Linked DNA regions of Homo sapiens. The protein of the gene in region 3 purifies or fractionates together with the protein of the main gene of each other region. This does not show direct contact. Each region holds a gene or a part of one and is shown on either strand. Other genes may lie near its edges. The genes, in order: IFT88, CDK5RAP3, SMNDC1, SF3B6, ITSN1, CHERP and TSR1.

Region 1 (4,245 bases), on a different chromosome or scaffold from region 3:
CCCCATCTCTACTAAAAATAAAAATAAAAATAAAAATAAAAAAATTAGCCGGGCTTGGTGGCGGGTGCCTGTAGTCCCAGCTACTCGAGAGGCTGAGGCAGGAGAATGGCGTGAAACTGGGAGGCGGAGCTTGCAGTGAGCCGCGCCACTGCCCTCTAGCCTAGGCGACAGAGCAAGATTCCGTCTCAAAAAAAAAAAAAAATGAGCAAAAGATCTGAACAGACATTTCTCCAAAGAGATATAGAAATGGATAATAAGCAGATGAAAAGATACTCAACATCATTAGTCATCAGGGGAATGCAAGTCAATACTACAATGAGATACCATTTCATACTCACTAGAATTGCAATAATCAAAAACAGGAACAGTAACAGATGTTGGCTAGGACATGGATAAATTGGAAACTTCATGCATTGCAGGTGGGATGTAAAATAGTGCAGCCACTTTGGAAAACAGTCTAGCTGTTCCTCCAAAAGTTAAACATAGAGTTACTATATGATCCAGCAATTCCTTTACTAGATATATTCCCAATAGAATTGGACCTATATATGCATGCTAAAACTTGTACACACACATTCATAGTGATGTTATTCATAAAAGTCAAAAAGTGGAAACAATTCAAATGTCCATTAACTAATGAATGGATAAGCAAAATGTTGCAGATGTATTTAGCCATAAAAAGTAATGAAATATTGATACATACTACTGCGTGGATGAACCTTGGAAGCATTATGCTAAGTGAAAGAGACCAGACACAAAAGGCTACATATTGTGTAATTTCCTTAATATGAAATGTCCAGAATTGGCAAATCCATAGAGACAGAAAATGGTTGCCAGGGACTGGGGAAAGGGAAGGGAGGCATGGAGAGCTGCTAACAGGCCCCATATTTCTTTATGGGATGATGAAAGTGTTCTGGAATTACATACTGGGGATGGTTGCACAACCTTGTGAATATACTAAAAACCACTGCACCTTGAAAAGTTAAATTGTATGGTATATGAATTATAGTTCAAAAACTAATAATTTTGTTAGTATTTAAAATATATAAATAATTTTTAAAGGTTATGAGAAGCCACATATATGTGGTATTATGCTGAGAAAAAGATTAAGCTGAAAATTTATTTTTTATTTATTTATTTTTATTATTTATTTATTTTTTGAGACAGAGTCTGGCTCTGTCGCCTAGGCAGGGGTGTGGTGGCACAATCTCGGCCCACTGCAACCTCCGCCTCCCAGGTTCAGGCCATTCTCCTGCCTCAGCCTCCTGAGTACCTGGGATTACAGGTGCCTGCTATCATGCCCGGCTAATTTTTTTGTATTTTTAGTAGAGACGGGGTTTCACCATATTAGCCAGGATGGTCTCGATCTCCTGACCTCGTGATCTGCCTGCCTCGGCCTCCCAAAGTGCTGGGATTATAGGCGTGAGCCACTGCGCCCAGCCTAAGCTGAAAATTTCTTAGGAATTTGCTGGTGCACTTAAAATGTACAGGCCTTAAGAAAATATGTATTTGCTTTAAAGAAAATACATTTCTTGAATACTAGCAATACTACATTTCTTGGGTAATTAGCCTTCCTCCACCTCCCACCCCTCAAATTGCCTAAAATATTGACTTGATTTGAATGATACTTCCAGGAATCCTTGCCAGATTCTTTAGTAATTATTAGATTTACAGTATATCTATATGGTAATTTCATTTCTCCCATGCTTCTGTCCAAGTCAAAATGTAGAGATGAATCTTGAAATTTTACATTTTTATTTGGGAAGAAAGAATTGCAGTTTGAGGACCAGGTGGTCTTTGGTATGTCCAAAGAACAAAGAGAAGGTTGGAGGTTTATCAAAAGGAGAAGTGTCATGTAGTGCTCTTTGAGAAAGTTCACTGGAACTAGTGAGGTTCTGGGAAGCTGGCAAGTTCTAATTGGTGGGTAGCTGTGGTGGGCACAATTAGTCCTATATTTGCAGCAAGTTATCTCAGCAGCTATAAATAAAATTGGCCTCAGGTTTTAGCAGCCAGTTTCAGCAGCCAGACTTGCAGAGAATTCCATTCTTCAAGCAATGTTATGTGTCCTGAGTGCCTCCCCACCAACACACCCCAGCTTCTTGACTCTGTTTTAGTTGGGTATGACAAGAATGACTCAAATTTGTATGATCAGCTTTCACTCTTCTGTTTCATTTTGCTTTGATATCTTTTTTTCTGTCTTGCATTTTTTCCCTCAACATTTCATTATGAAAATTTTCAAACATGCAGCAAGGTTTAAAGAATTTTATGTTGAATGTTACTCCTGCTACCTAGATTCCACCATTAACCTTTTTCTATAGCTGCTTTATCATGTACTTATCCATTTACCTATCTCTCAATCCATCTATCAAGCCATCTTTTTTTTTAGAGACAGAGTCTCACTCTGTCACCCAGGTTGGAGTGCAGTGGCATGATCTCAGCTCACTGCAACCTCTGCCTCCTGGGTTCAAGCGATTCTCGTGCCTCAGCCTCCCAAATAGCTGGAATTACAGATGTGCACCACCATGCCCGGCTAGTTTTTGTATTTTTAGTAGCGATGGGGTTTCACCATCTTGACCAAGCTGGTCTCAAACTCCTGACCTCAAGTAATCCACCCGTCTTGGCCCTCCAAAGTCCTGAAATTACAGGCATGAGCTACGGCGCCCGGCCTAAGCTGTCTTATTTTATGTATTTTAAGCTAAATTACAGCTATTACATGTTCCCTGAAATAACAGCATGCGTATCAATTATATAGTTCAATATTTGTTTATAGTTCTTACTTTTGAGGTAAAATTTACAAAGCAGAAATCGCAGTGTATATTTGCTGAGTTTTCACAAATGCATACACTTGTGCGACTCAAACCCCTGCCAAGATACAGAACATTTATCATCACCCCAGAAAATTCTCTCATGTCCCTTTCCATTCAATCCCTAACCCCCATCCCCAAGAAGCGATCTCAGTTCTGATGGTTTTCTACCGCAAATTAGCTTTGCCTGTTTGAGAACTTCATATAAAGGAAACAGTGCATAATGTACACTCTATGTAAGGCTTCTTTCACTCAGCATAATTGGGATTCTTTTTTATTGCTGGATAGTACTTCATTGCGTAAGTATGCCACATTTTGCTTGTCCATTTTACTGATGGGTATCTGGTTTGTTTCTGATTTTTCAGTATTATGAATAAAGCTATGACAAAGAAAAGAAAGGTTTAATTTGAAGAATGAGACTCTCCTCTAAATTACCAGGTCCAGAGAGGCGTGGGAGTGAAACAGCAGTCACATCTCCTTTACCTTCTTGGGCTAAGTAATCATGTCTTGAAACTTGCTTGCTATTGCCATAAGTAGCTATAAATTAATCTAACAATGGCACTGTCTGGATACTATAACCCATACAATGTAGCCAATCACTAATCAACGTTATTTTTTTAAACCAGTGAGAATTTCTGACAGACAGCTTTGTATCAGCCCACTCCCTGCCCCACTTTTTTGCCTTTAAAGATCTGCTTGAAACAAAGGCCAAATGGAGCGCCTGTCCAAGGTTACATGAAGTCTGAGTGTTCTGGGCAGGCAGCCGTCCTCATTTTGGCTCAAGTAAACTTTTTAGAATTGTATTTTATGCCTCAATTCCTTTCTTTAGGTCGACAGCTACTATGAACATTCTTATACAAATCTTTTTGTAGACATATGTTTTCATTCCTCTTGAGTAAATATTTTTGAGTGGAATTGCTGGGTGATAAAAGGTACTTTTAATAAAAGTTAATTTTATGAAACTGCAAGACTTTTCTCCCAAAGTGTATCATTTTACACTCCCATCAGCAACGTGTGAATACTCTGGTTGCTCCACATTTTTGCTGACATTATGTGTTGTTGGTCTTTTTAATTTTACACATTCTGATGGGTATGTGGTGGCTTCTGCCTTGCATTTTAATTGACTGTTGCATACCTTTCTTCTGCACTTGATACTAAGCTTCCATGAAAATCAGGACAATCAATTGTACCCCCTCTAGTGCCTGTCACTGTTCTTTCAGTGTCGTAGTTGTGAAATAAATGTGAAATGAGGACAATAACTTAATGTTTTGACATCTAGTTTTGGGAATTTGATGTGAAAAAAATTGAAGCCATGAAAATATATATAGATAAATTTGACCACAAATGTCATTAAATAGTTATACTTTATTGGAATTAAGAATTATTTCTGGCCTGGCGTGGTGGCTCATGCTGGTAATCCCAGCATTTTGGGAGGCCAAAG
Region 2 (4,245 bases), on a different chromosome or scaffold from region 3:
CTGGATCAAGAACCCCACGAAAACAGGTGCGAAGCCTCAACTGCAGGCTCAGAGAAGCAGCATAAGGAACTGTCAGTACTGAAGCAAGAGTTTTTTCCTCTTTTATTAAGTCCGCTATACTAACTAGAAGGAGAATCTGTGGTTTTCGCCTGATAGACCACAGGGCCAATCACCACAGCTTCTTGTAGAGAACATGGAGAGTGCCAAGATCACCATCAGGTGCCGCTTCCTTCCTGTGGCTTTCCATCTTCCAGTCAGCCTGGTCTTTTGCCTTGAAGGGCCCCAAAACAACAGCCCTGGCTATCATCTTCATCCCAAAAGCGGAGAAGATGGGCAGGCAAGAACACGGAGGGTGTCACAGAGAGGTTCCCATCAGGTTCACAGGGCGCCCGCTGTACCTCTTGGAGATGTCAGCTTCAATCTGAAAGAGTGATACCAAGTGGGCAGAAGCAGGGGTGCTCAGGGCCTCATTTTGCACAGACTGGGAGTCCTCCCACTGGCAGGCCTCCCTTTCCCATCTCACCAGCTTCTGCAGCTCCTTGGTCTTCTCCAGTAGCAGGTCCAGCTTAGGCTCCAGAGCCGCCTGCTCCTCAAGTGCCTCCTGCTGCTTCTGCACCATCAGCTCTTTCTTCAAAGCCAGCAGCTGGGACTGCTTCAGCTTTTGCTGGAGGAATTCAGTCACTCGGTCCACATACCTGTGCGGGGCACTCAGGTGAGTGCTGGGTTAGCTGTGCATCCTGAGCATTCCCATTCAGCTGCTGGGGAGGTGAGAGGCTCGGGAAACCAAACCCCCAACTGGCCGCTTACCCTCACATCCTTAAACCCTTTCCTTTTAAGGAAAACCCACTCCCAGTTCCCCTGTCCTACTCAGGAAGCAAGCAGATTCTTCCTGTATATGTGAAACCTCCCCCTCTTGTCCCAAAGAGAACCCCTATCCCCAGTGGATGGCAATGGCCAGGAGGCAGGGATGGGGTTTAAGGGGTCATGGAACAAGAGGAGGAATACAAGGAGGCAGAGCTGCTCAAGATGGCAGAGCCTTGCATCAAGGGGAAGCCAGACCTTGGTGAGGCCAGGATCATAAACAGGTGTTGCAGCTGAAGACTGGTAAGCTTGCCAATCAGATCCTCCAGCACTGACACCATGGTAACCATCTTCTCTTTGGTCTGGCCCTGCAGGATGGCTGGAGCCAGCTGGAACTGGCTCACAGACAGGACATCTGCCTCCTCACTCAACTCCACTGCTCTCTGGGCTAAGAAGATCTCAAGCTGAGGACAGAAGAAAGATTGGTTCAGGCTGTACATGATGGCTCACACTTGCAATTCCAGCACTGTGGGAGGCCAAGGCAGGAGGATCGCTTGAGGCCAGGAGTTCAAGACCAGCCTGGGAAACGATGAGACCCTGTCTCTACAGAAATGTTTAAAATTAGCCAAACATGGTGGTGTATGCCTGTAGTCCCAGCTACTCAGGAGGCTGAGGCGGGAGGATCACTTGAGCCCAGGAGTTTGAGGTTATAGTGAGCTATGATTGCTGCACTGCACTCCAGACTGGGCGACAGAGAAACTCTTTTTAAAAAAAAAGGAAGAAAGAAAAAAAGAAGATAAATTGGTTCAAACTGAGAGAAGAACTCAGAATCTAAGCCCTCGGACTACTCGAAATGCAAAAATGAGACATGAGGGCTAGACTCTGGGTAAGGAGTTTCCTCTGAACACTGTAAGCGCTAGGAGAGACTACTGTCACCCTTCAGTCCCCACCTCCTATCTCATCCTAACCCCAGACCTCTGTCCTTTCTCCCCAGCCTGGGATCAGATAACTGAGAATACAGAGACTCAAAGGGTTCTCTCTGCCCAGGGAAGGTATTTATTTTGTCTCCATGGGAGGAATGAGATTCAGGGAACAGAAATACATGTTTGAGAAGCACTGGATTAAGGCAAGGCTGAAAAGAATACAAGAGCCAGCCATATTAACTTATCAATCCTATTCTGCCGTTAAAACTTCACAGATATCTTTTGTCCTCTCCCCTTGAGGCTGGGAGGAGCCTCTGGGCAGAAAGAGGAGAGAACTGGGTGAGGACAGAACTTTCAGGAGGCTCTCCGAACCAGCAGGCTACTGGGAAGGGAGCAGATACAGAGATTAACAAAGACAGGACCCCGTCCTCCCAGCCTTACAACAAAGGTCCAAGAACGCTGGCTCCTTACGCTGGGCTGCTCAACACCTTAGCCACAGGGATCGTCCTTAAACACAAATGAGATCATGTTCCTAACCTGCTCGAAACCTCCAACAGCTTCCCAGTTCACTCAGAGGCAAACCAAGGTTCAGACGCTACATCTCTGAGCTCTTCTACTCCCCACCAGCTCTCTCTCCTCAGCCACACCAGCCTCCATGTTGCTGGTCAACTGTGCAAGGTCTGCTCCCACCTCGGGACCTCTGCACTTGCTCTCTCTGCCTGGGAAGCCCTTCTGCCAGACATCTGCATGGTTCTCTCTGCACCGCCTGCAGTCTTGATTACAGGTCACCTTCTCAATGAGGCCTTCCCTGACCACCAGATACAAAACCATAGCCCTTTCCAACATCCTCGTCATCCTCCCCTACTTTCTCTTTCTCCGTGGCATTTGGTGCCATCTAGCATCCTGCATATTTTATTTATTTATCTTCTTTCCAGTCTGCATTCCCCATTAGAATATAAGCTCCATGAGGTCAAGGACTTTGACTGTCTTATTCACCACCCAAGTTCTGGTGCCTAAGGTAGTGCCAGGTGCCTAGGAGGTACCTGATAAGTAACTGGATGAATAGGAGGCATCTAATACGTGAGGCTCCTGCTGTAGGACACAAATAGCACTCACACCCTTCACACAAACAGGAGGGGTCAGGTCAGGCATCTGGAGTGAAGCCACCTGTGCTGGTGCCATGCCTCCCCCCTGCATCTTCCAGAGATGACAGTACCTCCATGAGCTCATCAAGGAACTGATTCCGGGTCTCAGTGTATTCAAGCAGTGTCAGGGCATCTGGGCCCCTGGCAACACCTTCTGGAGCTGCCAGGAAGAGACAGAGAAGTGATAAAGGATCAGAGGACTGGAGAAGGAAAAGACCCTCAAGTGTGAGAAGCCCTGGAGGATTAATACGGACAGACTCACTGTGCTAAAGCCACTTCTTGTTCTAATCCAAGGGGGAAGGCTACCTTGTCCCAGGTGTCTCAGCTCTAATCAGGTACCACTTTCCAACTCCCAGACTGAGAGGAGGACCAGAGCTGGGTTCAGAGGGGTAGAAAGGCCGGCTCTCTGCTCTGGTGGACCGCAGGAGGTAAAGTTTCATCCTGCACCGCCCTCTAGTGGCTCAGACACCACTACGTCTTCTCTGCTGTTGGGGCGGGGGTCATGTCACACTCCAGGGCCCCGATCCCCCTAGAGCCCTCCTACCATAACAGCTGGCCCACATGTGGTCTCTAAAAAGTTGAGAGTTTCTAAACTCTCAACTTTTAAGAACCTCTCTTGGGCCAGGCACGGTGGCTCACACCTATAATCCCAGCATTTGGGAGGCCGAGGCAGGTGGATCACCTGAGGTCAAGAGTTCGAGACCAGCCTGACCAACATGGAGAAACCCCAACTCTACTAAAAAAATATAAAATTAGCTGTGCGTGGTGGTGCATGCCTGTAATCCCAGCTACTCGGGAGGCTGAGGCAGGAGAATAGCTTGAACCCAGGAGGTGGAGGTTGCAGCGAGCTGAGATCATGCCATTGCACTCCAGCCTGGGCAACAAGAGCGAAACTCCGTCTCCAAAAAAAAAAAAAAAACCTCTCTTGGTCCCCCTCAGCTCACATCCTCATCAAGGTTTTGAGAAACAGTTAAATGTGCAAGAAGCCTCATCTTAGCGCTGCATTTTTTGTTTCTAGACACGTGGGGGCCCTTGAGCACCCCACTTTTGCCAGGGCTGCAGGGGATGGTGCACTTACCCTGGGTTCCTGCTTCCAGCACTGTGATCTGCAAAGCAACAGCATCGTCTCCCCAGTCTATCCCATCACCTCCAGGATCCTGGAAGGAGAGCAAAGAACCACAGCAATGGGGGGAGAATTTTCCTGAGCCAAGGAGCCAGAATAAACCAAAGCCCTTGATGAGGTCAATGGCTGCACATTCCAACTCTATTAAGGATTTGCAGCCCTGACTTAGGTGCCAAAAATGGCAGTATGGCCCATCATCCCTGCTCTGTAGTGTTCCCACCTGCCTTTACCCCTACACCCTGTACCAAACACC
Region 3 (3,091 bases):
ACCATGGCTCTTTCAGCCGTATTCTTAAAAAAGACTAAGTGGAGAAACAAATTACAGTTTAAATAATTCCAGTGACTATACTGGTTTTGTTTTAAATGAACTGGTAAGGTGTGTGGTGGAACTAAGTTTCCAGTTTTTGTTGCCTGGGAACTGAAAGATTAATTAAATATCCAAAACTTCGTATTTTTAGCTAGTTCAGCTGTCAACTACTACAAACCCCTATTATTCTCAGTTCTGCTTTACCCCAATCAAGGCCACAAAAGAACCACCTTTATATACATAAGTTAAAAGGCAGAAAAGGCAATTAAAACACCTCACAGAAATCTAACACTATTTTGTTTTATTTTACTCTTTTGGCTAGGCCAAAACGAATTATTAAAATGTTCCATCTATAAAATTGATTTCTGAACCTCTTAAGATGTTTCTTAAGAACATAACTATACACATACATAGGCCTTTTAAAAGATGATTGGATAAAGGGCGCCAATTACTTGGGTTTTTCTGTTTGTTTAAAATACAGTATTACCTGTTATTTTGCCTGCTATGCTCCTCCTCTCTACTGCAGTAAAAATTCAGTTTAACTTGCAACTCAAAAATCCTAGATACAAAGAATGTTTACATTTACTGTTGAACTTGTAAATTGCCATTTATACTAATTGATTGCTTCGTAGTACCATACAGATACTTAATTCAGCTGATATTTATTGAATCAAGATTTAAAAAAATATAAAACCTCATTGGTTTTAATAGATTTTCTTCCTTTATATTTCAGTTACTACCCAAGTTAAAGCAAAAAGCTAAATCAAAGCTTTAAATTTTTTTTGGTTGAATTTACAACTGGTAGTTTTTTATCTTATAAAAATTGTAATTATAAAATTACAATCTACAGACACATGAGTCACACAACTACAGTTTTCCTTTATGTTAACCTGATGGTCTCCTTTGCTATTTTTAAGGCAGACATTTGGCATTAGAATTGCATACTGGAAACAGACACACACCCTTCATTGTGACAACAAGCAATTTTTTAAAAAAAATGTGTTGCTACAGTAACTGATGCATCTTGTTTTGGTTTGACGCCTAGTCTTCATGATTAGGCTAAAAGGTAATTTTTCTTCATTTCCAAAGTCAAACTTTTATAGTTAACAGTTCTCAGACGGGGATGCACATCAGGATCACCTGCGGTGTTCGTCAAACAACATACCTTGGCCTGGATAAGTCTAAGGTTGGTCCCAGGCCCACAAATTCCTCTTTAATTTTAAACAAGCATTAGGGGTGACTTTTATTATAACCTTCACCCCCTTCCCATTAAGAAACATGCCCTAGTATACAAATTAGTTCAAACCTTTAACTAGGAATACTAAATATACCCTACAGCCTTGGTAATTTGATAACACTTCAATAATACAGTTATAATTGGATGCCTCAAATCATAAACAATGGGTATTGTTATCCATTGTAATGTGGATTGCTATTCAAGTTAAGGAAAAAATATCAGATAATTCACCACTGCCACTCTGCAGAGTAATAGCAGACGCTTCTATAGTGCTTATGCCGGATACTCTTAAGCTATTTACACATTTGAATTCAATCCTTAAAACTGAAACAGATTTTTCCATTCTACAGCTGAGAAAAATGAATCAGAGGAATACACAGGTAATAAATGGGAATACACAGGTAATAAATGGTAATAAACAAACACTAGTCTGGCTCTAGAGTCCTTGCTGTTTTCCAGTATGCTCTGTGGCCTCCCTACATGTTAATTAAAATAGCACTTGTTACCTGTGATTACCACTAAAACTCAACATTTTATTTTCGGGAGGTTAGGACTGTTCTTTCCTTGAAATGGTAACAACAGTCAAACGTCAAGCTTTGGTAAGTTACATGCAACCATTTCTACTTAGGGGCCCATAACTCAATATTTAACATTTCAGTCTGTCACAGTTTCAAAGCTTCAAGTCTCCTTTCTTAATGGGGAAAACTCTACATTAAATTTTCTAACAAAGCTTTTTAAGGTCAAGGTTTATATTTTGTTTCAGAATATAGAGAGCTTAACCACCTTCAACTGTAAAATACTGTGGGTATCATGCTTCTCATTGAGCATCTTCTCAAATTCAGTATCACACTGTGACAGGTAGTCTCCCCAGGAGTCCTGCCTCTTAGTTCAGAGACACAAACATCATCCTGACACTAGGATTTTCCAAAGGGCCACATCTAGATCTTTGACACAAAGGTTGCTGATTTCATTCTAAAGGTCTATTTTCAAAACATTTTTTTTTAAGGTCACTTTTATTCTTTTTCTCTCTCCTACTGCAAAGTCCTCTGGGAAAACTAAGGCCCCCCAGGGTCAAAAGAGGGACAAGACTGTTAACAGTCCTGCCTACACAAACATCAAGTGAATTACTATTCTAATACCACCAAGGTAATCTCAACAACCATTTTCTGGGGTCACACAATGACACCAAATTTCTTCCCAGTGCTTTTTAATTCAAAGGATTCTCTTGCAATCCATCAAGGCTACTCTTGATTATTGATAAGCTCTTAAGATGTTACAATAACAAAGTATATTTTATTTAGAAGTTTACAGGCTTCAACAAACCCTTTTTCTACTGCAGTTTGTGCCTTTCTGTCCTTTGTGTCCTACCCTGTGGCCACGAATTATATGAAGAAAAAGTGACCCTCCTGGGTTGAGAGGGGTGGGTGTGGAAGGGAGAGATGAAGAATTCTACCTACCACTGTCCTAAGTTTCAATTTATAAAAAAAATTAAAATTCATGAAATAAAAACTTATTTTCCCCTTCCACCAAAAATCTACAAACACCCATTAAAATGAGGACATCCTATAAACACAGGCCTGGTTTGCCCTTTAAGATCCAATTTCTTCTAATGGAAGGAATACTTAAGCATTTACTGAAACCTCTCACACACTCAGTATTCTCTTGCATGAATGCCGTGTGCAAGTACTTGGAGGTTTAATTGCTTTAAGTGCTGACAGCTAAAGACTTTACCCTTTTGTTAACACACCCTGGAGATTTTAAAAACACTTTATTTAATAAAAGTTAAACATACAAAACTGAAATAATACACATCCT
Region 4 (3,866 bases), on a different chromosome or scaffold from region 3:
ACAAAAACTAATAATGCATTCATAAAAGCATTCAAAAGAAAATTACAGCTGTAGCTCCTTTCTTATCTTCCCACCCTTAGAAATGACTCTACTCTCTTACACTGCTTTCAAAAAACACTCAGATATAATTAAAAGCAGAATTGATGCTCTTTGTACATTGAAGTGATTCAGTGTATGTACCTTCAAATTGATTTTAGGTTCCAATCACACACAAAACAATTAGTCCATGTTTTTCCATTTGGTCCATGCCTAAGCAATAAAAAGCAAATTACGGCTATATTCTCCCAAGCTGCCATGATGATGAATGGGGTAATAACCATACTGTTTCCATGTCATGGGAACTCATGATAATAAGAATGAGCATTAAGTATTTATGGCAAAGATATATTATGAGCTAAGGTCCAATATACCTACAGATACTTAATAACTAAAGGAAAAGTCTACATAAATACAATCTTAGACATGTAACAACCAACGCCACTACCCAAGCAGCTTGCTCTCAAATTTCTACCAATGTGACAATTATTATGTACCCATAATAATTAAAAAACAATTTAAAGAGGCAAATCTAAGTTTCTAACAATGTACTATCATCTAAATGACCATTTCTATAATAGACCTCTGTTCTAAAGACAAGGGTACCCATATTGACACAGGTGTTTTGTTAACTATAAAGCAAGCATTATTCAAATGTAAAGGCTTGGTTAATAACTGGTTGTTATCACACCAGCTTTGTATGTTAGCATTTTATTCATTCAACCAACATCATGAACTTTGGTTTCCTCACCTGCAAAATGCAAATACCTATCTTCACTGAGTTGTTATGAAGATTTCATTATTAATGGACATGCAATAAACAGCAAGTTCCTTTGATGGCTAAGCACTGCACCGGGCCCTGGAGGCATTAAGAATGTAAAGAGATCCTGTTCTCAAGAAACTCAGAATCCCTAGGAGCACCTACAATTCTTGATAAGCTTCAACTGTTTTTTCCTGGTATCAAACAGGAAGGGAAAGTTCAAGAGAAAAGACTGAGGTGTTTCACAAAAAGCTACAAGTTTATTAACATAATGTATTCCAATATGTATCAAAGTTTCAAGCAGGTCATTTTGAACCTCAAATAAGAAATCACAATATTTAGTATTAATTAAAAAGGAAAAAAAGGTGGTAGTTGTCATTCGTGGGATTTAGTCCAAATGAAAATGTAGAAAACATTTATTTTGGTGGATCTGTGTTGATGCCATATTTCTCCTTGAGAAGCTTCAACTGTTCCTCCTTCTTCTTTGTGTCCATCTTCTGAAATGCCTGGAAATGTGGTAAGCACCAAAATTAAATTACCAATCTACAGCCAAATGAATTTCATCAATAGCATTAGCCAAAAAAGAAAGTCATAGTAGACATATATCATCACAGTACAGTTCTACACTAATTCTCTTGAGACGGAGTCTCTCTGTTGCCCAGGCTGGAGTGCAGTGGCGTGATCTTGGCTCACTGCAGGCTCCACCCCCTGGGGTTCACGCCATTCTCCTGCCTCAGCCTCCCGAGTAGCTGGGACTACAGGCGCCCGCCACCACGCCCGGCTAATTTTTTGTATTTTTAGTACAGACGGGGTTTCACCGTGTTAGCCAGGATGGTCTCGATCTCCTGACCTCGTGATCCGCCCACCTCGGCCTCCCAAAATGCTGGGATTACAGGCATGAGCCACCGCGCCCGGCCAGTTCTACACTAATTCTCAAATGAGATCACTACACAATGAGAACTTTGCTATACTTACCCTGTTGGCATTATAGTACAAAACCACAAGGTATCTGTTACAAACATTGAATCCCGATAGGTGATCACATGCATTCTTGGCATCAAAGATGTCCTCATAGACCACATAAGCTGTTCCTCTAGTTTCAGGTGTGTTCCCCCTGGAGAGGTAAGTTAAACTTAATTAAGATATACATTTACCTGAGCATTGATAGTTGACTTACAGAACTGTCTTTTAAACTGGTAACTGTCTTTTAAAAACAGTAAATTGAAATACGTTTTTAGTTAAGTATTTTGAAATCAACCTGAAACCATCAGAGGAAATAAACATGGATAGATATACCGGATAAGCCTGTAATTTCTTGAATTAGGTAATTTTGTTCTTCGTTTTTATCTTAACTAAAATATCCATAGGTCAAGCTGACTGTCACATCAGGAATACTAAGAACACAGCTACTACACAGAACAGCCTCGTGAGTTGTGGGGACTACAGGTGCTCTTGCCACCCTGACTGGCTCTACGTTGTCTTTGTTTTGTTTTGTTTTTGTTTTTGTTTTTGTTTTTTTGAGATAGACTCTCACTCTGTTGCCTAGGCTGGAGTGCAGTGGCACAATCTCAGCTCATTGCAACCTCTGCCTCTCAAGTTCAAGTGATTCTTGTGTCTCAGCCTCCCAAGTAGCTGGGACTGGAGGCATGTGCCACCATGCCCAGCTAATTTTTGTATTTTTAGTAGAGACAGGGTTTCATCATGTTCCCCAGGCTGGTCTTAAACTCCTGACTTCAAGTGATCCGCCTGCCTCAGCCTCCCAAGGTGTTGGAATTACAGGCATGAGCCACCACACCCGGTCTACATTCATTTTTAATACAACTCAAGTGCTAATGCACGATACAGCTGTGTGGCTAGGGAGAAGGGCTAGGCTTCTGCAAAGATGGGAGTGGAAGTGTGCTTGTGGATAGGGTTATCAGTGAGCCAGGGCAGAATGCTGGAAGGTGGCTGGAAGTGGAAGCTAACCTTACTTATGGATACGAGGTTGCTGTTAGTGTAGTTATTCCTGGCCACTTCCTTCCTTCACCTCACCAACTTCCTCTGGGAGAGGTAGAGAAGTTTGAGGAGCAACGCAACGCTAAATTGCAGGCAGCAGGTGGCCATGTGACTGTTAGTGGAGACAATGGGTAGAGGTCCCACTCAGTTCAGGCTCTGGGTGACAAGATGGCCCCCTTGCCTCCATCTGTGTTCCAACCACCCAGTGCAACTGTGGAATGAGGTTTAAGACTGTGGGCTGACTCTCCATCTGCCACAGTCCTTACATAGGGTTGAATAAAAGCAGTGGAGCCATGGGAAGAGGAGGTACCTGCCTAGACTTGATCTAGGATAGGACTATAGTCTGGGCCCTGTTCAAGCTTGTGCTTCCTGTAAAATTGAAAAGGAATAGGGTACTGGGGGTGATTGGAGGGTGCCACTGTCAATGAATGCGCTCACTTTGTCAGGTTGTGTGGGCCTGACGAGGGGTTTTAGAATGTTCTTTAGGCTCTGGCAAGTCTTAACAACTTTCAGACTTTTGACTTCTAAAAACTTAATAAGATTTTCAGTTCCTTAAGAGCAAAGGTGATCTTATGCGTACTTCATTTATTCCTTTAGTGCCACGCATAAGGCAGACGCTAATACGCCTTTGAAAAGTGGAGATCTACTTTCTTCTATCAGTTCTCTCACACACACTTTGTTCAGGAAGCTCAAAACAAAACTAAACAAAGCAACTCTCTTTCTTCCTCTTATATCTTCTTAGGAACTAGAATAGGGATAGACACTAACCCCACTTTAAAGACTCTCCATCTTAAGTGTCCCAGCCCTAATTATCAACCTCACACCTTGAGAGCCATATTATAATTTGAACTTTTAAAAGCATGTATCTGTACCTACCACGTATTGGACACTGAGCTAACATTATTTTCTTATTTTTTTGAGACAGAGTCAACCAATTCTTGTGCAGGTGTGCGCCACCATGCCCGACTAATTTTTGTATTTTTAGTAGAGATGGGGTTTTGCCATGTTGGCCAGGCAGGTCTCGAACTCCTGGCCTCAAGTGATCCACCCACCTCAGCCTCCCAAAGTGCTACAA
Region 5 (4,245 bases), on a different chromosome or scaffold from region 3:
GAGGTGAAGGAACAGAGAGGCCCAATGGTTTGAGACTCCATGCATCACCCATGTTTCTCAATCCCTGTGACACAACTCATGAATCACAGCTGGGTCCGAGGGCCAGCCCGACTCCTCCATACGGACAATTGGTTACATTACAAATTACACCAGTAAATACAAGGACACTAATCCAGAACTTGCTACATGGCAGGAGCATCTCAAGGATGCTCAACAGAGTCACTTGAGGAAAAAGAGTCACATATTGCTTTCTCATGCTACATTAATTCCAATAATAGGACACTATGAGTGGGTGACCTGGGACCTAAAACGATTGTTTGTCATTGTGCATACCATACGCTACCTACATGAACAATGATGTCCAACATTAACACGCAAATAAAGTCAATGAAGAAAAGACAGGACAGAAAACAAAAAGAGATCGGAATGGTGACCCACACTACCCCATTTACACATTGAATACTTTTCTTTCTACCATGGTAGCATATCTTTCATAAATACACTAAACAAACGGTGTTGGTTATAGAAATAGGAAAGCATGAGTTGCATGTCTATTTATAGATTTAATTTAAAAGTTTCTTAACAACATCAAAAAATATAAACTTAAAGTATTTTAACCATGTTTTCTGCTGGGAAATGGTAAACAAATGCATGCCTGAAGTTAAACTTGGTCTCTAACATGTTCAGTTGAAAGTTTCTAACTACAGGGTATATTTGCTTGTTTCAAAAAATACTTATGTCTGTTGTTCTTGATACAAAATTCTACACTATCTTCAATAAATAAATAATAAAGTATTTCTTAAAAGTATGAAATGTAAACTTTGTTGTCCTTTCCAACACACACTTTTAAAAAAATTGCTTGAAGTATGACCGGGCTCTCATGGGAAATGATAACACTACACATTCAGTTCCCAGCAAAGGAGGTACTCTGCCACAACGCTGATGCTATCATTTAGAAAGCACTTTGATAACCCTAATTAAAGTCTAAGGACCTACAATCAAAGAGAACACCATCTAGTACAGGAAAGCTAGACTCCAGTACCAACAGAACATGCAAAGGACATTTCATGACCACAACAAACTAGGATTATGAGAATATTAACATGCAAACAAAACACGGCCCCCACTTTTCATTAGCAAATCAAGTTACTATCTAACTAACCAGATGATCTCCTGGCATTTAAGGGAAAAAAAAATTAAAGAACTCAAACCAAACAGCTTGGCACATAGTCATAAAGTCCTGACTCTTGCAACAAGCATATTATGTGAGGTTGGGGTGGTGGAGGGTGGAAAAGTGTCTTAGGTCTTTGCCCCGGGATGTGCGGGGCTTGCATCCTCCTAGGGTCTTTCACCCACCACATAATGGACTGCCTTCATTTTCTTTCCCAACCTCCAGCTTGATATTTTTCCTTTTCACGCCTTGGGGATCTAGGACATGGCTTTTTGGGGAACGTACCAAAAAGAGCTGTTGAAATGTCCTACAACAATCAGGATTCAGCACATTCAAGCACAGAACAGGTCACCAGCAACGACTGCTGCTATGAAATATCACAGGCCTCCGAGCCAAAAGAGATTTTTCCAACATGGCTGCCAACCGAGACCCAGTGACCCAACATTGTAAAGTTGCCTTTCCAGTGACCTGTAGTGATCTGATCCAGCAGAGGGGTGACTTTCTAGATAATGACTTTCTGTGACCATATTCTAAGCATGCTGGGAATCAGAACTGAATCCACGCAACAATACACCAGTGTGTTTTCATTGACATATATTAATACAAGGCCTAGAGGGGGAAGGAACGGCTATAACGGTGCACATGCTGGAAACTTCCATAGACCAGCTCTTCAAAGAGCTAAGCCAGGGCCTGATCAGACCGTCTCACCGAGTGATCAGCTCTAGGCAGCATTTCCCTGCAGGAGAGATGGGATTCTGAAGCAATGACAGGACCGTCATAATTGTTTCTAAACTCACACCAAGGACTGGGCATTGTAGGCCAAGAAGTCTACTTGGGGACTGGTGGATGTAAGAAACAGGAGGGTTACATGAGTTCTCCAAAAATATAGACATTGCATTTATAAATCTATTTTATAGTAACCAGACCCATCCCTCAAGCCCGGGAAGGGGCTAGACTCCCAGCTGCACCCTGTTGAGGGCTATGGGATTTCAGCGACCCTAGAAGCCATAATGAGACCTGTAGTGAGGACAAAGGAAAACACAGCTTTGTTTCATGAAACAGGAAATTGTTTCGGGGCAGGGAGGATTGTCGAGAATGATTCCTAGGAGCTTTGAGGGGCCTGTCTTTGCCATCCCATATCCCTGTGACTGAATACCAAATGGTGGTTTCTTAGAAAAGGAATACAATTTCCAGACAGCATGTGTGGCCGTGGGCTGGGACCCTGCTGAGCACACCCTGAGCCCGCTGCCTACGGCTCATCAAACAACTGCAGGTCCAAGCGGACCACAATCTCTCCCGTGGGGACTTCGTGCAGCAGAAGACACTTCGTAACTGGACCTTTGGAGCCCTGGTCTTTCTTGATGTCCGCCACACGGATCTCCGTCCGACCCAAAAAATCTGAAAAGAGAACAAACAGACCCTCCTAAGAGGGACCATTCCCTCTCTTCGAGGCACATGTCTGGCATATTGGGGACCCCCTGATGAACTGTTATGCTCTCCCTTCTTCTCTGGGCTCTGATGTAAACCAACACTAGGATTTCCAACTCGCTCCCCAGCGGAGTTGCCAATGTGTCATGGTATTTCATTACTTAAATAAAAAAAAAAACCCAACCCCAACCTTTATCTCTCAGAATTAGAAGGTGGCCGGGCACAGTGGCTCGCGTCTGTAATCCCAGCACTTTGGGAGGCCGAGGCAGGAGGATCACTTGAGTCCAGGAGTTTGACACCAGCCTGGGCAATAGAGTGAGACCCTGTCTCTACAAAAAATTTTTAAAAATTAGCCTAGCATGGTGGTTCATGCCTGTCATCCCTGCTACTTAGGAGGCTGAGGCAGGAGGATTGCTTGAGCCTGGGAGGTGGAGGCTGCAGTGAGCTGTGATTGCACCACTGTGCTCCAGCCTGAGTGACAGAGCGAGAACAACAAGAAAAAAGATAAATAAATAAAAAAAATAAAAAGAAAAAAGAATTAGAAGTTGACAGTACACATAGTAGTTAAGAGCCCAGACTTGGGAGCCAAACTGTTCCAGTCACACTCAAACATTTAACCAGCTACCACAACGAGTACCTAACTCACAATGAGATAATTCATATAAAAAGTACTAAAAGATGAAGGCCATATGGAGCCATTTAAACCTTGTACAGATAATGCTAGCATTTGACCCTCACTTCTTCGGTTATAATTAAGTTGAGACCATAATCTTTTAACTTACTCTGTGATTTTTTTTTTTTTGGAGACAGGATCTTGCTCTGTTGCCCAGGCTGGAATATAGTGGTACCATCATGGCTCACTGCAGCCTCGACCTCCCAGGCTCAAGCAATCCTCCTGCCTCAGCCTCCCGAGTAGCTGGAACTACAGGTGCATGCCACCATGCCTGGCTAAGTTTTGTATTTTTTTGTAGAGACAAGGTCCCACTATGTTGCCCAGGCTGGTCTTAGACTCCTGGGCTTAAGCGATCCTCCTGCCTCAGCCTCCCAAAGTGTTGGGATTCCAGGCCTGCAGCACCATGCCCACCGGTGATTTTTATTGGGTTGAGGGAGAGACAGGTAGTTTCTTGGAATCATTGGGCTGAGACTATTCTTTTCCAGGCCCAAGCAGAAACAGAAGGCTGGCTGAAGAAATGATTCATTCAACATGACTGCATCCCTTTGCCTACTTAATAAGTGGTACAAAAATGCCACCCAAAGGGACCTGGCCCATTCTGCGGCTCCTGTTGTGGGCTAACATCCTTGTTCCATTGGCCAGTTTCATCCATTGCCAGCACAGCTTTTTGCCAAGGACTGAAGAACTATGCTGAGGCTCTTAAACACACCCCTCTCCACAGTCACCTGCTTTGGAAAGCAGAAGATGGACGTGTTTGCCCAGGGCAGCTGGCACAATTCTAGACCAAGCATGCTCTGTCCACATGCAATGAGACGCCTCCAGAAGACTCCTCCAGGGGAGACAGAGCCTCGTCTTGTGCCAGCCAGCCTCATCTCTCAGGAGGGAAACCGAAGGAATCCTGGCACCAAGTCCCCAGGTAAGAAAACATTAACCCACGCAAACGAGTGCCAGGGAAGGAGGAATAACCACAGGG
Region 6 (4,245 bases), on a different chromosome or scaffold from region 3:
CTGGGGTTCTATTGTTTTTTTTTTCTTTTTTGCTAATTTTTGTGAGAAGGGCCCCAGTGACCCTGTAGAAGGAAATACCCACCCAACCTTGGGGAGGGTGGAGACAGCAACAGTGGGAAGGGTGAGGGCTGGGTGGGGACAGAGGGTCGGCAGATGTGGCTCTGTTGAAGCCTGAGAGATGGGTCAGGGCTGGAGAAGGGGATCCCAAAGGAGGGTCCTGATGGCTGAGCAAAGTCAGGTGACCGCGTGTGTGTGCGTGCAAATCAGTGACGAGGGCAGGAGACAGACACAGAGGCCAAGGAGGCCGTGGCTGAGAAGGCAACAAGGAGACGCCAAGAAGCTGCCCCATGAGAGGAAGGAGTGCAGGGGACAGTGGCCCCCAGGAGACAGCAATGTGACAGGTGAGGCCGGGGTCTAGGGGAGAGGACAGGGCATGCAGCGAAGGTGCACAGGACACCTAGACCTCGCAGTCCTGGAGACAGAAGCCTGGTGGCTCACAGAGACCCCCCACCCGGGGTCCCCGGACAAGTGCCCCCTAGTCTCGGGACAGGCCAAGCCAAGCTACCGACCGGAGCAAGCGGCCACCCAGGAGGGTTGAGGAGGAGCGCGAGGAAGTGGCGCTCTGGGCACGGGGTGGCGGCGCTCACCAGTGGTGCAGCACGTCATTGATCAGGTAGATGAGGTGCAGCCGCAGCTCGAAGTGTGCCCCATCAGCCGTGATGCGGTTCCGGAGGTGGCCGGCCATCAGCTCACAGTGCGGCGGGGACTTGGCATTGCTGAACATCCAGTTCTTCCCGGCCTGCAACAACCGAGCCAATGACGAGTGAGCAGGGCCGCGGCTCCCCCAGGCACCCACTGCATCCCTGAGAGCGCGTCACCATCAGCTCAGGGAAGGACACACCATGAGCGTGGGGGGCACAGGGTCCCACAGCCTCAGGAGCTCCAGGCGGGAGGGAAGGGCACCCATTGTAACAGCCCTTAGCCCAGATTGGCTACGACAGGCCCTGCCTCAGGGAGGGACCAAGGGAAAGCTGGGCTCTGGGAAGTGCTGGCCCCTCACCGAGATGGCGTCCTTGGTGCACGTGTCGATGATGGGCTGCAGGAGGTTGTCAAACTCGTTCATGTCTAGCTGGGTCTCCTCCAGAAGCTTCTGCATCTGCTGCTCCACCGCGTGGGCCACGGCCGCTGTCACTTGCTCCTGCGGGCGGGGGTCGGTGGGGTCGAGAACACATGAGGAGGGACCCGCAGCCTGAGCCCTCCGGCCTGGCTCAGCAGGGGCGGGGTGGGGACATGGTGGCGATGCCCGGACTCTGGGCTGCTCTGGCCATCAGCTCCCTTGCTTGTCCCCAGCAGGAGGAGATTCTGTCTCTCATGCCTGCCGTGAATCTGTGACAGTCCCTCCTGGAGTGGGCAGGGCACTGACAGGACATACCAGGAGACAACACCTGCCCTCCAGGTAACCAAGGAAAACACTGCAGCCCAGAGGAACAAACAACCTCTGCAAACCAACTCAACAAAAAACAAAGGCGGGGCGCGGTGGCTCATGCCTGTAATCCCAGCACTTTGGGAGGCTGAGGCGGGAGGATCGCTTGAGCCCAGGAGCTCCAGACCACCTGGGCAACGTAGCGAAACCTCATCTCTACAAAAAATAAAATACAAATTAGTTGAGCATGGTAGTGTGTGCCTGTGTTCCCAACTACTTGGGAGGCTGAGGCGGAAGGATTGCTGGAACCCAGGAGTTCAAAGTTAAACAGTGAGCTGTGACTGTACCACTGCACTCCAGCCTGAGTGACACAGCAAGACCTTGTCTCTAACAACAACAAAACAACAACAACAACAACAACAAAAAGAAAAGAAAAGAAAAAAAAAGACAAATGAGGCATGGTGTGAACGACAGGCAATAGAAGAAGAGGATACACCCATGGCCTCTAGTGAAGCAAGAAGGGGGCAATCTCATTCCTCAAGAGGAAACACCGGTTAAAGTGCGACTGGTAAAAACAGAGCTGCCATGCGGACCAGCGGTCAGTTACGGCTGGTCAAGGCAGGCCTCCCACTCCATGATGAACAGAAGCTGAGGGTGAGCATTCTGGAACTTTCTTTTCTTTTCTTTTTTTTTTTTTTGAGATGGAATCTCGCTCTGTCGCCCAGGCTGAAGTGCAATGGCATAATCTCAGCTCACTGCAACCGCCACTTCCCGGGTTCAAGCAATTCTGCCTCAGTCTCCCGCGTAGCTGGGACTACAGACACCTGTCACTGCACCCAGCTAATTTTTGTATTTTTTACTAGAGACAGGGTTTCACCATATTGGCCATGCTGGTCTCAAACTCCTGACCCTGTGATCCGCCTGCCTTGGCCTCCCAGAGTGCTGGGATTATAGGCTGAGCCACTGTGCCCAGCTGGAATTTTCTGAGAGCAATATGACAGTGTGATTTTATGCCCTGAACCTAGTACTGAGCGTGGGGTTGGTGTTTTGGAGGTTTGGTATTCTATTCCTCTCATTTTTCTGGCAATGCACTTGTAGTATTTTATTTATTTATTTTTTCTGAGACTGAGTCTTGCTCAGTCACCCAGGCTGGAGTGCAGTGGTGCAATCTCAGCTCATGCAACCTTTTCCTCCCAGGTTGAAGCAATTCTCCTGCCTCAGCCTCCCAAGTAGCTGGGATTACAGGCGTGCACCACCACGCCCAGCTAATTTTTGTATTTTTCATAGAGACAGGGTTTCATCATGTTGACCAGGCTAGCCTCGAACTCCTGACCTCATGATCTGCCCATCTCAGCCTCCCAAAGTGCTGGGATTACAGGTGTGAGCCACCACACCCAGCCAATGCACCTGTATTCTATTTGGCGAAAGTTATCAAACTGTTGGACCAGGAAGGACAAAAGGGTCCTTCTGGCCAGGTGGATCACCTGAGGTCAGGAATTTGAGACCAGCCTGGCCAACCTGGTGAAACTCCATCTCTACTACAAATAGAAAAATTAGCCGGGTGTGGTGGTGCATGCCTGTAATCTCAGCTACTCCAGAGGCTGAGGCAGGAGAATCGTTTGAACTCGGGAGGTAGGGGCTGCAGTGAGCTGAGATCACGCCTCTGCACTCCAGCCTGGGCGACAGAACAAGACTTAAAAAAAAAAAAGGGTCCTTCCCCAACCAACAGCTCCAGGTGACCTAGCTACTGTGTGGTGGGGCCAATGGTAGGCACCAGAGGCTGCCTGGCCACAGCCATTAGGGAGCTTCAAGGTGCATACGTGCCCCACAGTCCCACTCAGGGGGGTCCACCCCAGGGTGATGGGTGCACGCACGTCCAGTGGCTTCACTGAGATGAGAAGCAGCCTCTGTGTCTGGCATCAGGGCTGGGGGTGACAGTGGCTGACATGCACCGAGCCCTGGGTGGCAGGGGGGGCCCTGTCCTCACTGACACCTGTTATTCATTCTGATGAGCAGACGCAAAAACAGAGGCACAGGGGAGCTGCTGGTGTCTGGCCGAGGAGGCGGCGGGCCCATACCTGTCTGAGCGCCAGCAAGTGCTGCTCCTGCTGCTGGAGGTTCCACTGGCTCTGCTGGATGAGCTCGTCCATGGATGGCGCGCCCTGGGCCGGCGGGATGGGCGCGGCGGGGGCCAGCGGGGGCTGTGGCAGGGGTGGCATGGTGGCGGCTGGCTCCAGCTCCGGGGTCTGCTGCTTGCAGATGACTGGAGGGAGAGGAGGAGGGGTGCCCCATGAGAATGCAGATGGGGGTCTAGGTGTCCCCTTGGCCACCTCTCAGCCACAGGGGCCTCCCCCTCCCCAGGGACTCACCATCCACGAGGGCCTGTTCATAGCCTCATGCCCACGCAAACCAGCTCCTCCTAGTCTCGGGTCCTGCCCTCCCTCTCACAGGATCCCAGCCTCAGCATTCCATCTTCGGGCCGTCCCCTCCTCGGAGAACCTAGGAAGTCCCCTGGCCGCTCTCTCGCCAGCACCATCCAGTCCTTGCGCAGTGTCCTTCCGGTGCAAGCTAAGCTTGCCTGCCCACCTCCTCACCCACCTAGGCCCCACCTGATGCAGAACCCAGGCCTCAGTACCTCTCATCCTCCGACCTCCTCGGCCACTCCCTGACCTCTGCCACTTAAGCTACCCATTGACTGTTAAGATGTCACAGCCACCGGGCCTCTGCACATCTGGCCAGAAAGGCACGAAGCCGCACCCCCGAGCGCACACTGCGGCCTCCCCCACACCTGCCTTGTCCTTCTACTGACTCTCCTTGCTTCT
Region 7 (4,245 bases), on a different chromosome or scaffold from region 3:
TGCCACACAAAAATCAGTGGCCTTCAAGGCATTCACTCACCACAATCTCAAAACCACACTCATTCAAGCCCCTTCTTCTTGAGCCCTTACCAAAACCGATCAAAGAACTATCACATACCCCACAACATACACAACTACTGGCCACCAAGAGAAAAGAGATCTGCACTTTGGCATAAACTTTTTTTTTTTTTGACATAAGAGTTTCGCTCTTGTTGCCCAGGCTGGAGTGCAATGGTGCAATCTTGGCTCACCACAACCTCCGCCTACTGGGTTCAAGCAATTCTTCTGCCTCAGCCTCCCAAGTAGCTGGGATTACAGGCATGTGCCACCACGCCTGGCTAATTTTGTATTTTTGGTAGAGACAGGGTTCCTCCATGTTGGTCAGGCTGGTCTCGAACTCCCGACCTCAGGTGATCCACCCACCTTGGCCTCCCAAAAAGTGCTGGGATTACAGGCGTGAGCCGCCGCGCCCAGCCAAACCTTTATTTTTAAGGCTGCCAACCCTTATTCAAAATCTGGTCTGAAAAACATACTTGGAGAAGTCTCAGAACCACACAGAGATTGCATCACTGAGATGCTTCAGACAGGTTCAGACGATATGAATAAAACCATCATTGACTTCTCTATTATTCTCCAATTCCTAATCATAAAGGCAGACTTTTTGCATCCCAATGAGCAAAATTTTAGTCACACATAAACAGAATTTTAGACTGTCAGAAGCAGCTGGAAAGTTTCACAACCCCCCATTTTCCCACAAGACAGCAATTTACCTTCTGTTCATGAGGTAGTAAAGAAAATGCAATCAAGGGTGTTCCTTGCCTGAAGCACTCGACCACTGAGACGGGGACTTCAGAGACATGAAGTGTGACATACCAGCCAACCTGCCACAAGAAAGCAGAAAGCAATCATGGAGTTACCTTTCAAAGTCCCAATAGCGAGGAAGCTTTCTCCAAATATGTTGAGTCTCTCAGATAAAATTTTTAAAGCCAACCCTCATCCTTCAAGATGCTTCATTTACCCAGATCACACTTTTTCATTTAACATAGCTGATACCTCTTTGTTCCCAGTATCATTCTAATCAATGACTCAGGGGCTCCCCTAATCCCCAAATGCAGCATATTTTCATGCCAAGAGAAGGAATAAAGTAGGGAGCATGTTGACAAATGAAAGCAACATACAAGATGAACAAGGAGGATAGATACCTCAGCTCCTTCAACCTCTTTTTCTTCAACCTCTTTAAAGATGCTTTTCCTAGTGTTAGTAAAGTTCTGAAACTGAAATATTCGAGCATAATCTTGAGGAAGGTTTTCCTTAGGATCCCATGGAGATGTCCGGAAGCTCTTAAGGCCTCTGTATTTCTGAAATCTAGAATATTGAAGATTTTTAAAGACATTAAGTCAGATTTATATGGTGCTATATAGACTCAAGTCACTGCTAAAATGGCTAAGGAGCTAGCTGAAAAGAACTCCAATCATCCTCTCTCCAAACAACCCAACAGCTTAAACCAAGACGACACTCCGAACAGCTTATAACAAGTTCTATCGGAACCAAACCCAAGCTTCTCACTGACAAAAAAGATGCTTGGTAATGGCCTGATACAGTTCAGATGTGTCTCCCTGCCCCAATCTCATACTGAAATACAATCCCCAGTGTTGGAGGTGGAGCCTGGTGGGAGGTGACTGCATTAGGGGAGAGGTTTTCTCATGAGTGGGTTAGCACCACCCTCCTTGTTGAGTGAGTTCTCATGAGATCTAGTTGTTTAAAGTGTGTAGCACCTCCTGCCTTGCTCTCGTTACTGCGCTGGCCGTGTGACATGACTTGCTCCCCCTCCACCTTCTGCCATGATTGTAAGTTTCTTGAGGACACCCCCAGAAGCTGAGCAGATGCCAACACCATGCTTCCTGTACAGTCTGCAGGACCATGACCCAATTAAATCTCTTTTCTTTATAAATTATGCAGTCTCTGGTACTTCTTTATAGCCATGCGAGAATGGCCTAATACATAGCCTTACCTCCTAATATCCAAAATTAATTCACTGGCTTTAGTCACTCACCTCCAGAACAGATATAATCATCTACTTCTTCACTCTTCTACTTCTGCTATTCTACCCAAACCCCCTAAAATTTCCAAACATTATATACTTCAATTGAGTACTGGCTCCTTTGGGAAGAAGTATTTGCTAATTAACCTTAGTATTTCCCCTTCATTCAAGTCCTGTAACGTGAGTCTGCACCACAGTCTAGAACTTAATTACATATGACCATTTCCCGTATGTATGTCCTGCCTTCCCATATTAAATGTTAGCTCTTCAGGAGCAGAAAAAATGTGTTTTTCTTCTTTTGCATCACAGTGACACAGCTCTGAGCCAAGTTTTTAAAAACGTATTGACTGAATTTAGATTTGTTGATAGACTTGTTGACTAACCGAATTCGAGCAGCCACATCACGGGGCGTGTCCACTTCATCTGGAAACATCTCTTCCAGTCTTTCTTGTTTATATTTCTCCAACATTTTTGCCTCAGCTTCTTCATCTACTTTCTTATCATACAGATCATCATGCACAGACTCCCCAATAGTCATAGTTTCATATTCTTCCTCTTCTTCACTACTCTCATCCTGTAGAATAGGATTACAGTTTTTTCAGAAGAAATCCACACCTGTCTCTACCCCAAAGGCCAATAAGCTAAGAGTAAAATAATTGTACTAGATCCCTATTCCCAACCAACATAAATTCTAATACAGTCTAAAGTATAAAACAAAAGCCTCATTCCTGGCAACTACAGAGTCATTCCTAAGAAACTAACCATACACGGCCGGGTGCGGTGGCTCACGCCTGTAATCCCAGCACTTTGGGAGGCCAAGGCAGGCGGATCATGAGGTCAGGAGATTGAGACCATCCTGGCTAACACAGTGAAACCCCGTCTCTACTAAAAATACAAAAAAATTAGCCAGGCATGGTGGTGGGCGCCTGTAGTCCCAGCTACTCAGGAGGCTGAGGCAGGAGAATGGCGTGAACCCAGGAGGGAGAGCTTGCAGTGAGCCCAGATCGCACCACTGCACTCCAGCCTGAGCAACAGAGCAAGACTCCGTCTCATAAAAAAAAAATAAAAAAAATAAAAAAAAGAAACTAACCACACACACCCATCAAGATCACACCTGCACTTTGCCTTACATTTGGAGCTAGACACAGAATTGGCCTAAGGCCTCATTTCCTTACCTGAGATTCCTCCTCCATAAAATCCTCATGTTCCATATCATCATATTCATATTCATCTCCTTCCCCACCACTTTGGCTGCCACCATCCAAAATCCATTCAGCTTGGTAACTGGATGTTCCTTTGGGGACCTTCTTTACCACCTTAGAACTTTCCTTCAAGAAATCTGTAAAAGCCCAAACAAATTAAGTAAATTACAGACTTCTTTTCCCTATCCCTCTGGTTATTCTCACCTAGGCAAGGCACCAGATACTGCTGCCAACATGGGAAATTCTGGCAGACACTGTAAATAGAACTACTTCCAAATTTAATTCAGCTGCCTCACAACTAGCAATACTTACACAGCTAAATAAGCCCTGCAATGAATCCAAAGTTGTTTATCTGTTCATGATAAAACATTAACACAAGTAATTTTGAGAAATGGAACAAGACTGTGTATAATGTTTGTTTATTGAAAACATACAGCATTTGAGGGTGAGGAGAGACTTTCAACTATACCCCCACCCCACTCTATCCTATAGGGCCCTCACTTGGAACAGCTACAGAAAATCCACAATTCCAGGTCAGATGAATTACAGACAAGTTTACCAATACTGACCCTTTGCCTCGCTCAGCTCCTCCTCAGTGGGCCAGGTTTGCTCTCCCTCCATTGGATCTGGGATAACCTCTGCTTGCAAGGATTCCTGTCTACCAGGGTCTGCCTTCATTAGGACTTTAAGACCTTCTTCCATATCATCTACAGCATCCGTAGCACAAATCTGAAAACCAAAAGCAGGTGATAGTCAACCATGAACCAAAAATCTCCTAAATCTAACACAGTAACCAGAAAGACCCAGAAATATCAGTCCTCATGTATAAGATGAGTGCGACAGAATGCTAAAACTTGTCAAAACTTTTCCAATGGCTGTTTTCTAATTTCCAGGGTATTTTAAGTCTCTGCTTGGCTCTTGAGGTCTTTCTTAATCTGCTCCCACTCCTATCCATTTATTACGTACCTCACTCCCATCAAGCTGATTTCTTCAAGGTTCACA

The links.
Region 1: the proteins of SMNDC1 (region 3) and IFT88 purify together in Homo sapiens (co-immunoprecipitation; one large-scale study listed by IntAct). This does not show direct contact.
Region 2: the proteins of SMNDC1 (region 3) and CDK5RAP3 purify together in Homo sapiens (affinity purification with mass spectrometry; one large-scale study listed by BioGRID and IntAct). This does not show direct contact.
Region 4: the proteins of SMNDC1 (region 3) and SF3B6 purify together in Homo sapiens (co-immunoprecipitation; 2 studies listed by BioGRID and IntAct, with this or other methods). This does not show direct contact.
Region 5: the proteins of SMNDC1 (region 3) and ITSN1 purify together in Homo sapiens (co-immunoprecipitation; one large-scale study listed by IntAct). This does not show direct contact.
Region 6: the proteins of SMNDC1 (region 3) and CHERP fractionate together in Homo sapiens (co-fractionation; one large-scale study listed by BioGRID). This does not show direct contact.
Region 7: the proteins of SMNDC1 (region 3) and TSR1 purify together in Homo sapiens (affinity purification with mass spectrometry; one large-scale study listed by BioGRID and IntAct). This does not show direct contact.

What each region holds. Positions count from the first base shown.
Region 1 is NC_000013.11:20,569,852-20,574,096, forward strand, and holds part of IFT88 (intraflagellar transport protein 88 homolog), read left to right. Parts: intron 1-3,169; exon of another isoform or gene 3,170-3,300; intron 3,301-4,245. UniProt on the Homo sapiens protein: Positively regulates primary cilium biogenesis. Also involved in autophagy since it is required for trafficking of ATG16L and the expansion of the autophagic compartment.
Region 2 is NC_000017.11:47,977,613-47,981,857, reverse strand, and holds the end of CDK5RAP3 (CDK5 regulatory subunit-associated protein 3), read right to left. Parts: intron 4,027-4,245; coding exon 3,948-4,026; intron 3,030-3,947; coding exon 2,941-3,029; intron 1,266-2,940; coding exon 1,060-1,265; intron 696-1,059; coding exon 524-695; intron 422-523; coding exon 356-421; 3' UTR 272-355; coding exon of another isoform or gene 124-271; 3' UTR 77-123; downstream 1-76. UniProt on the Homo sapiens protein: Substrate adapter of E3 ligase complexes mediating ufmylation, the covalent attachment of the ubiquitin-like modifier UFM1 to substrate proteins, and which is involved in various processes, such as ribosome recycling and reticulophagy (also called ER-phagy).
Region 3 is NC_000010.11:110,290,015-110,293,105, forward strand, and holds the end of SMNDC1 (survival of motor neuron-related-splicing factor 30), read right to left. Parts: 3' UTR 716-3,091; downstream 1-715. UniProt on the Homo sapiens protein: Involved in spliceosome assembly.
Region 4 is NC_000002.12:24,066,550-24,070,415, forward strand, and holds the end of SF3B6 (splicing factor 3B subunit 6), read right to left. Parts: intron 1,911-3,866; coding exon 1,772-1,910; intron 1,303-1,771; coding exon 1,213-1,302; 3' UTR 1,037-1,212; downstream 1-1,036.
Region 5 is NC_000021.9:33,886,476-33,890,720, reverse strand, and holds part of ITSN1 (intersectin-1), read right to left. Parts: intron 2,570-4,245; coding exon 2,421-2,569; 3' UTR 1-2,420. UniProt on the Homo sapiens protein: Adapter protein that provides a link between the endocytic membrane traffic and the actin assembly machinery. Acts as a guanine nucleotide exchange factor (GEF) for CDC42, and thereby stimulates actin nucleation mediated by WASL and the ARP2/3 complex.
Region 6 is NC_000019.10:16,531,951-16,536,195, forward strand, and holds part of CHERP (calcium homeostasis endoplasmic reticulum protein), read right to left. Parts: intron 3,687-4,245; coding exon 3,502-3,686; intron 1,199-3,501; coding exon 1,061-1,198; intron 800-1,060; coding exon 648-799; intron 1-647. UniProt on the Homo sapiens protein: Involved in calcium homeostasis, growth and proliferation.
Region 7 is NC_000017.11:2,329,745-2,333,989, forward strand, and holds part of TSR1 (pre-rRNA-processing protein TSR1 homolog), read right to left. Parts: intron 3,973-4,245; coding exon 3,813-3,972; intron 3,381-3,812; coding exon 3,217-3,380; intron 2,616-3,216; coding exon 2,425-2,615; intron 1,366-2,424; coding exon 1,203-1,365; intron 882-1,202; coding exon 771-881; intron 627-770; exon of another isoform or gene 535-626; intron 1-534. UniProt on the Homo sapiens protein: Required during maturation of the 40S ribosomal subunit in the nucleolus.